Homo sapiens: one gene and its partner. The protein of the gene in region 2 purifies or fractionates together with the protein of the main gene of each other region. This does not show direct contact. Each region holds a gene or a part of one and is shown on either strand. Other genes may lie near its edges. The genes, in order: PDP2 and ACP7.

The links.
Region 1: the proteins of ACP7 (region 2) and PDP2 purify together in Homo sapiens (affinity purification with mass spectrometry; one large-scale study listed by BioGRID and IntAct). This does not show direct contact.

The regions. Positions count from the first base shown.
Region 1 is NC_000016.10:66,883,276-66,887,089, reverse strand, and holds part of PDP2 ([Pyruvate dehydrogenase [acetyl-transferring]]-phosphatase 2, mitochondrial precursor), read right to left. Parts: intron 2,860-3,814; 5' UTR 2,806-2,859; coding exon 1,216-2,805; 3' UTR 1-1,215. UniProt on the Homo sapiens protein: Mitochondrial enzyme that catalyzes the dephosphorylation and concomitant reactivation of the alpha subunit of the E1 component of the pyruvate dehydrogenase complex (PDC), thereby stimulating the conversion of pyruvate into acetyl-CoA.
Region 2 is NC_000019.10:39,097,792-39,101,605, reverse strand, and holds part of ACP7 (acid phosphatase type 7 isoform 1 precursor), read right to left. Parts: intron 3,149-3,814; coding exon 2,948-3,148; intron 2,647-2,947; coding exon 2,464-2,646; intron 1,380-2,463; coding exon 1,256-1,379; intron 1,027-1,255; coding exon 964-1,026; intron 868-963; coding exon 753-867; intron 658-752; coding exon 550-657; intron 457-549; coding exon 399-456; intron 319-398; coding exon 251-318; intron 141-250; coding exon 69-140; intron 1-68.

The DNA of each region.
Region 1 (3,814 bases), on a different chromosome or scaffold from region 2:
GTCTCACTCCTCCCTCCTGCCCACCACCTCTCAGGAAAGGATTCAGAGAAACTTGGTTAGAAACTGTTGTCCTTAAGCCTTTGTGTTTTCACCTCTCCAGATAGAGGTTGAATCTTAAGTCCACAATCCGCTAAATTAACCTGTCCTGTCTAAACGTCTATCACCACAACTACCACATGCAATCACATTTTCTCCTTTCCTGCAGCCATAGGAAGCAGGAACATGTGAAAGATTCTTTCAGACAATATTTTGCAGTTGGCAGGTGCAGGGTGAATGAGGGGTTCAGCATAGCAGAGGTAGAAGGATTGTGTGGAATTGACAGAAGAATGTTTGAGAGGTATAATCAGAAAGCTTAAATGCTGTGAATCAACCCCCAAAGGCTCAGCCCAGGAGGAAATTTTACTAATGCAGGAAAGGTCAGGAGTTAAGGCATAGACTAGTTACCTCCTAGCATGGCTCAAAGTTTCTGGAATGGGACTCAGTAGAGGGCACAAAAAGCTGCACCAGTAAGTTCAGCTGGTCCAGAGGCATAGATCCTATCAGCTGAAAACCAAAACAAGTCATTCCAAGCATGCTTACAGTAGGCGTGTTTGCAAGTTTAAGGATTCAGTTTTAAAATAAACGAAAACAGAACTAGAATGTAGTATTACAAAATTTCTCACAAGCATAATCACAAAAAAAAAAGTTAGGATATTGCATAGAAAAGGGTCCTGTAGTATGCTTTGTAAACCTAGACCTTAGTAATTTAAATAAAAGACAAACAAATAAAATATCTCTTCATAGTCTACAAGTCCATGATTGTGAATTCAGGAGAATTATCAAATTTGCAGATTTTTGTGGCAAGACCTAAGAAGCTCCTGAAGTTCTTTATTCTCAGAATCATGATTAAATTTACCCTTTGAAGGCTCAGGCTGACACAGTTTAACAACATCTTTATCAAATGACTGGGGCTACACAAGCCCAAGCCAATTCTATAGACTTTATGCTCTGTCCTCTCTGCATATAAGACTTAATCAGAACATACAGGGACATGAAATCACTGCTATTTCACTGTTTTTTAAAGCTAGGCTGTTTGTTTTTTTCCTCCTGTTAGTCTATTTAGCAAATTAAATCTGCCTGCGCTTTTAATAGTAAGGTTTGGATAGCTAGTTTAGGAGTAAGTGAAACATTTTAGAAGAGCATTTATGTTAACCTTGACAATAGGATGGGAGATTCTTAACCCCCCTTGTAATATGCACCGATTGATTCTGAGTTAAAATACACCACAGTGACAGTGATATCATCCCTGTACATCCTCGCCAAGTCCTCTGGCAATGTCAGCATCGCCGCCAGCCGCTCTGCCTCCATCTCCCCATACTCATTGTTCCCGATGGCATGTCTGATCAGCCGCGTGGCTGCATTTTGGTCAGCCTCGTGGAGCCCGCTGGCTTTCCTCTGCAGCAGCAGGCTCTGCATGAGCCCCAAGTTGGCGGGTCTCTGGGCCAGGTCTGTCTTGTGCCAATCTGCCTCAGCCAGGTGCCCCACCACCAGCCTTACCACGTCCTCATTGCTCAGCATGTCCCACAGGCCATCTGAGGCCAGCACAAGGAACTTATCCTGGGGCCTCAGCCTGTGGTATGTGACCTCAGGCTCAGCAGTCAGGTAGGGTGGAGTGTAGTAGTGTGGGGGTGTGAACTGGTAAATGTTGAGGGCCTCGGTATTGAAGCCCCTCTCCAGAATGCTGCGCTGCAACTCTTTACTCCACTTCAGCTGAACATCCCCAAAGGCCCTGCAGGGGATGAGGACGCCCAGTAGCCTGTCCTCCATGATGATCGTCCTGTCCTCTGACTCAGGGTGCTCCCTCTTTAGCCGGGACAGCTCGGCCTGGTTCCAGGCATTGTGGTCACGTGTAAGGGGCAGACAAGACCACATGCCATTGTCCTCTTGGACACCAAGGATGGCTCGGCAGTCACCAGCATTTGCCACGTGCAAGTGAATTCCATCAACATGGGCCATGCAAGCTGTTGCCCCAGAGAAAGCAACCTGGAGTGACAGGTTCCTTGTCACCTCATCTTCCAGGGGGGCCTGGATTTCCAGCGAGATGTCAGAATCCAGTCTCTGGAAGGAGTACATTAATGCTTCTTCAATGCTTAGTCCCATTTCCATGTGCAAATCAAGCAGTTCCTGCCAATAGACACGGAGGTGGTCAAGATGCACAGATGTGACATCCTTGTAGATACTGTCCCCTGGGTGCTTGAGCCAATGCAGGATGGGCAGCAAGGGTTTCATGCTTTCCATAGCTCCCTCCATGTGCTCCAGGGTCTGGTGGGACATCAGGGACACTGCCACATAGTAGAAGAGCCTCTCGCTCACTGCTTGGGCACATGCATGACCACCATGTCCATCGAAGATGCCAAACATCAGTCCATTGGTTTGCAGGCAGGAGGCTACACCTCGCCGGTCCTCCACTGGGGAATTGGCAGCCAGCTGGTTGCTCTCAAACCGCAACACTGAATTTGGGACTCTGCTTTCAAGGTCAAGAATCTTGTGGGTTGTCTCGCCAGCTCGAAGCACTTCATTTATCTGCTCAGGGCTGAGTTGCAAGTGAAAATCATCTTCCTCTGTTGATGTGTGTCTGTAGGCTTTGCACAGAGTAAAGCCACCACATGGGGAACTGTTTAGGGTGGGTGGCACCCGGGAAAAGAGCCTCCATTTTAATTTATTCCTATTTGAGACATACCTGGAGTATAAGCGTCTACCCCCTTGCAATGTGGCAATGCTGTTCCTTGTAGAATTTAAGATCCAGTAGGACACAGTACTTGACATTCTGAAACTATACCAGCAAATGTGTTCCTTCAGCAAAAAAGGATATTTTTAAACCTAAAAATTAAAAAGTTGAAGTTTCAAATTTAATTTCTTTTTTTTTTTTTTTTTTTTGAGACGTAGTCTCGCTCTGCCGCCCAGGCTGGAGTGCAGTGGTGTGATCTCTGCTCACTGCAAGCTCCGCCTCCCAGGTTCATGCCATTCTCCTACCTCAGACTCTGGAGTAGCTGGGACTACAGGCGCCCGCCACCACACCTGGCCAATTTTTTGTATGTTTAGTAGAGACAGGGTTTCACCATGTTAGCCAGGATGGTCTCGATCTCCTGACCTTGTGATCCACCTGCCTCGGCCTCCCAAAGTGCTGGGATTACAGGCGTGAGCCAAAGCACCCAGCCACAAATTTAATTTCTTAAAAATACTGACTTCTGAAAACATTTGCTAATATCCTGAACAAAAATGACTTAGAATAAACTATTTAAAATACACTAAACTCACTCTCACCAGCAGACTATAAGTGTTCATTTAAATATCTGCTTCGGGGGCCAGGCCTGGTGGCTCATGCCTGTAATCCTAGCACTTTGGGAGGCCAAGGTGGGTGGATAGCTTGAGCCCAGGAGTTCGAGACTAGCCTGGGCAACATGGTGAAACCCTGTCTCTCCAAAAAAATAAAAAAAATAAAAAAATTGCCAGGCATGGTGGTGTGTATCTATAGTCACAGCTACTTGGGAGGCTGAGGTAGGAGAATCATCTGAGCCTGGTAAGTTGAGGCTGCAGAAAGCAGTGATTGTGCCACTGCAGTCTAGCCTGGGCCTCACTAGAGAGGGAGTGAGACCCTGTCTCAAAGAAAACAAAAACAGGCCTGACGCGGTGGCTCACGCCTGTAATCCCAGCACTTTGGGAGGCCGAGGTGGGCTGATCACGAGTTCAGGAGATCGAGACCATCCTGGCTAACACAGTGAAACCCCGTCTCTACTAAAAATACAAAAATTTAGCTGGGTGCAGTGATGGGCGC
Region 2 (3,814 bases):
GGAACAAAGTTAGCCCTCCATAGATAGGAATAGAGAGAGAAGGCAAAGCCACCCTTCCCCCTGCTCACAGCAGATCCTGTGATGATGTGGACAGGCCCTCGCGGGTTGGTGTAGGGCATCTCTCGGCTGCCGTTAAATACCTGGGGAAGGGAACAACGTTGGGTGGCAGGCAGTCACTCGAGGCCATGCCTGGGCCTTCTGACCACCCTGACCCCAGCTGTGTGGGCGCTCAGCCCTTCACGTGCCTCACCTGGTAGTTGTAAATTGGCCACAGTCGTTCATACGAGTGCTCATGAGCCCACAGCTGCAGATCCACTCCTGAGATAGAGCAAGCGGGGATCAGACCTCTGAATTGGGGAGAGGTGGGGTGTGGGGCATGGGTCCTGAGGGTCGCTCACCATATTTGTAGAAAAGATCCTCCAACCCGTACAGCTTGCCTTGGAGGCCTTTGCGGACCTGGGCAGGGTGAATGAGCGGGTGAGGGTGACGCAGACTGACGCCCACCTGGCTTTCAGCATGTCCCCACTGTCTCCCAGGGAGGGACCTCACCTTGCTTTCATGTCGTGTGCAGTCGTCCAGATCTGCGTTGGAGCAGTACATGGGCCGGTGCCCCATAGTGATGATCCACGGCCGGGCTGCCCGGTTCTTATTGGCTTTCTAGGGAGAAGGGCCCAGGGTGAGGGGCTAGGAGTCAGGGGTGGAGGGGGAGGTGGGGCTGGCCAGGGGACTATAGGGGCCTCCACCCAGGTTACCTGGAGGTCGCTCTCCAGCCAGCGAAACTGCCTCTGTACCAAGTGGCGGCCATAATGGAGAAAGAAATAGACCTCGGTGGAGAAGGAGATGATGTGGGCGGGACCCAGATCCCAGCTGGAGGAGTCAAAGGGCAGGGGTCAGGGACCAGGGCTCCCCTGCATCTCCCATCCTTCAGGGGAGAGGGCCAGTCCCCCAGCACCCCCACATTACCTGTACCACAGGCCCTCATTATCCCCCGGCATGCTGAAGCGAGCCTTGTAGTTAGAGAAGTTGCTGGAATAAAGGAAGTACAAGGGATGGAGGTGAAGGACTGAATTTCATAGCCCTACTCCTATACCCCGCCACTGTCAGGCCCTGAGTCCAGCTTCCAGCCCACCCCCATCTCCTCTTGCTACCACAATTGAAATGTTGCAGCATGAGAGACTCAAGGGAGACACTAAGAAGAACGAGACCATTTCCATTGATCCAGCCCTCGCCCACCGCCACCACCCTCAGTCCTCACTAGCGTTCTTCATGATTCCCAGGGCATGTCATGTACGGCAGGCTGGCAGCCACGGGTTCAATGAGCCGCATGAACCTATCCCCAACACGGGCGTTGTCCTGATCCAGGTTGTAGGCAAAGTCTCCTGGGGGAGGGGGCGGAAGGAGGGTGAGGACCCAGGCCCAGCTCTGCTTTCACTGGAATTGAGAGAGCCAGGTATGGTGACTCACACCTGTTAATCCCAGCGCTTCGGGAGGCCAAGGCAAGAGTATCACTTGAGCCCAGGAATTCAAAACCAGCTTCCCAAAGTGCTGGAATTACAGGTGTGAGCCACTGTGCCGGGCCAAGATGGGCACTTTTTTTTTTTTTTTTTTTTTTTGAGACAGAGTCTCCCTCTGCTGCCCAGGCTGGACTGCAGTGGTGCCATCTTGGCTCACTGCAACCTCTGCCTCCTGGGTTCAAGCGGTTCTCCTGCCTCAGCCTCCCAAGCAGCTGGGATTACAGACACTTGCCACCACACCTGGCTAATTTTTGTAGTTTTAGTAGAGATGGAGTTTCACCATGTTGGCTGGGCTGGTCTCGAACTCCTGACCTCAAGTGATCCACCCACCTTGGCCTCACAAAGTGCTGGAATTACAGGCATGAGCCACTGCGCCTGGCCCAAGATGAGTATTATTATTATTATTCCCATTTCAGATGGGGAAACTGAGGCCCCAGGTCACACAGCTGGCTAGTGAAGATGTAGAAATAAAACCTAGGGAGCCTGATTCCAGAGTCTGCACTTTGAAGCACACAATCCCCAATCCCCATTACCCATCTAATTCCCTTCCCCCTCTTAAATAACAACAGCAGCAATAATAATAATAACCAGCACAAGGACACCGAAGTGCACCTGCACCCTGCGAGGCAAAGCGAACTAACGTAGTCATCACAACAGTCCTGCGAACTCGGAACCAGCTTTCTCTCTAATCAAAATATACGGGGGAAAACCCCTGCTCCTGGCAAGAGCGCCAGAGTTGGGATTTTAACCTAGGCAGGCTGGTTGGCCACAGACACCGTCTCCGTAGCCAGTCTCATCCCCTGTCCCTTCAGAGACACACTGGCCCCAGCCCTGTCCCCTCCACGGTCCTAGCACCGCCCCCGACCCGCGCGCCCCCGACCCGCGCGCCCCCCACCATCCCTGCGCGCGCCCCCCACCGTCCCTGCGCGCGCCCCTGCGGATGCCTCACCCACATGGAGAACGGCGTCATACATGCCCTGCTGGGTGTCCCTGCGCAGCCGGGGGACGGCCTTCGGGTTGTCAGCCCCCAGGTCTCCAAACACAGCCAGACGGGGACTCCAGTGGGCCCCATTCTTGAGGGCCCTGAAGCGGAACCGACGGCTCCAGCCCTGCGCACTGCCACAGCGATAAACTGAATGGGAGAGGAAAAGGTCGCAGTCAGCTGGGGCGCCCCGGGACCCTCCCTCCAACCCCATCCTTCCCCGACTGGTGGAGGGGAGGAGATGGGGGGACTGGTGGGGGCTGGCCCATGCCCCTTCGGTCTGCCTTCCCCGGCACCTTCCGTTTTCATCCTGGGGTCTCATACAACAGGCTTGCAGATAGGCAGTGGAGTTACCAGCCCAGCCTGAGCCACCGGCCAGTGGTAGCTTCTAGTCTGCATCCCACTCCTCTTCCCACTCCTCCTCAACAGCTCAGCCTGGGGCCCCTCTCACCATACTGAACCCCTGGCAGCAGCTTGCGAAGCGTGACTCGGTGTATGTAGAGCTTCCGCCGGAGAATGCCCCCGTCCACAAAGGGGACGAAGGTGCCCTGGGCGCGGAGGGGCAGGGGCCCCGACGGCTGCAACCCGAATTGCACTTCAGAGCGGGTTGGGACCCATGTGGTCCAAGTTACAGTCATGGAGCCTGGCTCACCTGGGGAGAAAGGGACAGAGGGTAGACCGGGAGTGAAGCCTGGGCAGGGTGGGAGGGATATGCAGAAAAAGTGAGGGGCGTTGACCACTGTTGAACAGTTAGTGGTTAAGGACACAGGTTCTGGAACTGCCCAAGTTCAATCCCAGCCCCGCCATTTCTTTTCTTTTCTTTTCTTTTCTTTTTTTTTTTTTTTTTTTTTTTTTTGAGTCAGGGTCTTACTCTGCCTCCTAGGCTGGAGTACAGTGGTGCAATCTCAGCTTACTGCAATCTCTGCCGCCTCGCAGGTTCAAGCGATTCTCCTGCCTCAGCCTCCCGAGTAGCTGGGATTACAAGCATGTGCCACCATGCCTGGCTAATTTTTGCATTTTTAGTAGAGATGTAGTTTTGCCATGTTGGCCAGGCTGGTCTTGAACTACTGACCTCAGGTGATCCACCCACCTTGGCCTCCCAAAGTTCTGGGATTACAGGCATGAGCCAGCTCTGCCATTTCTAAGCTGAGCTTTCCTGGGGCACATCACTTCACCTCTCTGAGCCTCAGTTTTCCTGTCTGTAAAATGGAAAAATAATAGTCTCTGCCCTATATGGTTGTTATGAGGCTTAGATGAATAAATATAAATAAAGCACGTGAAACAGTACCTAGTACACTTAGGGTTATATGCGGGAATG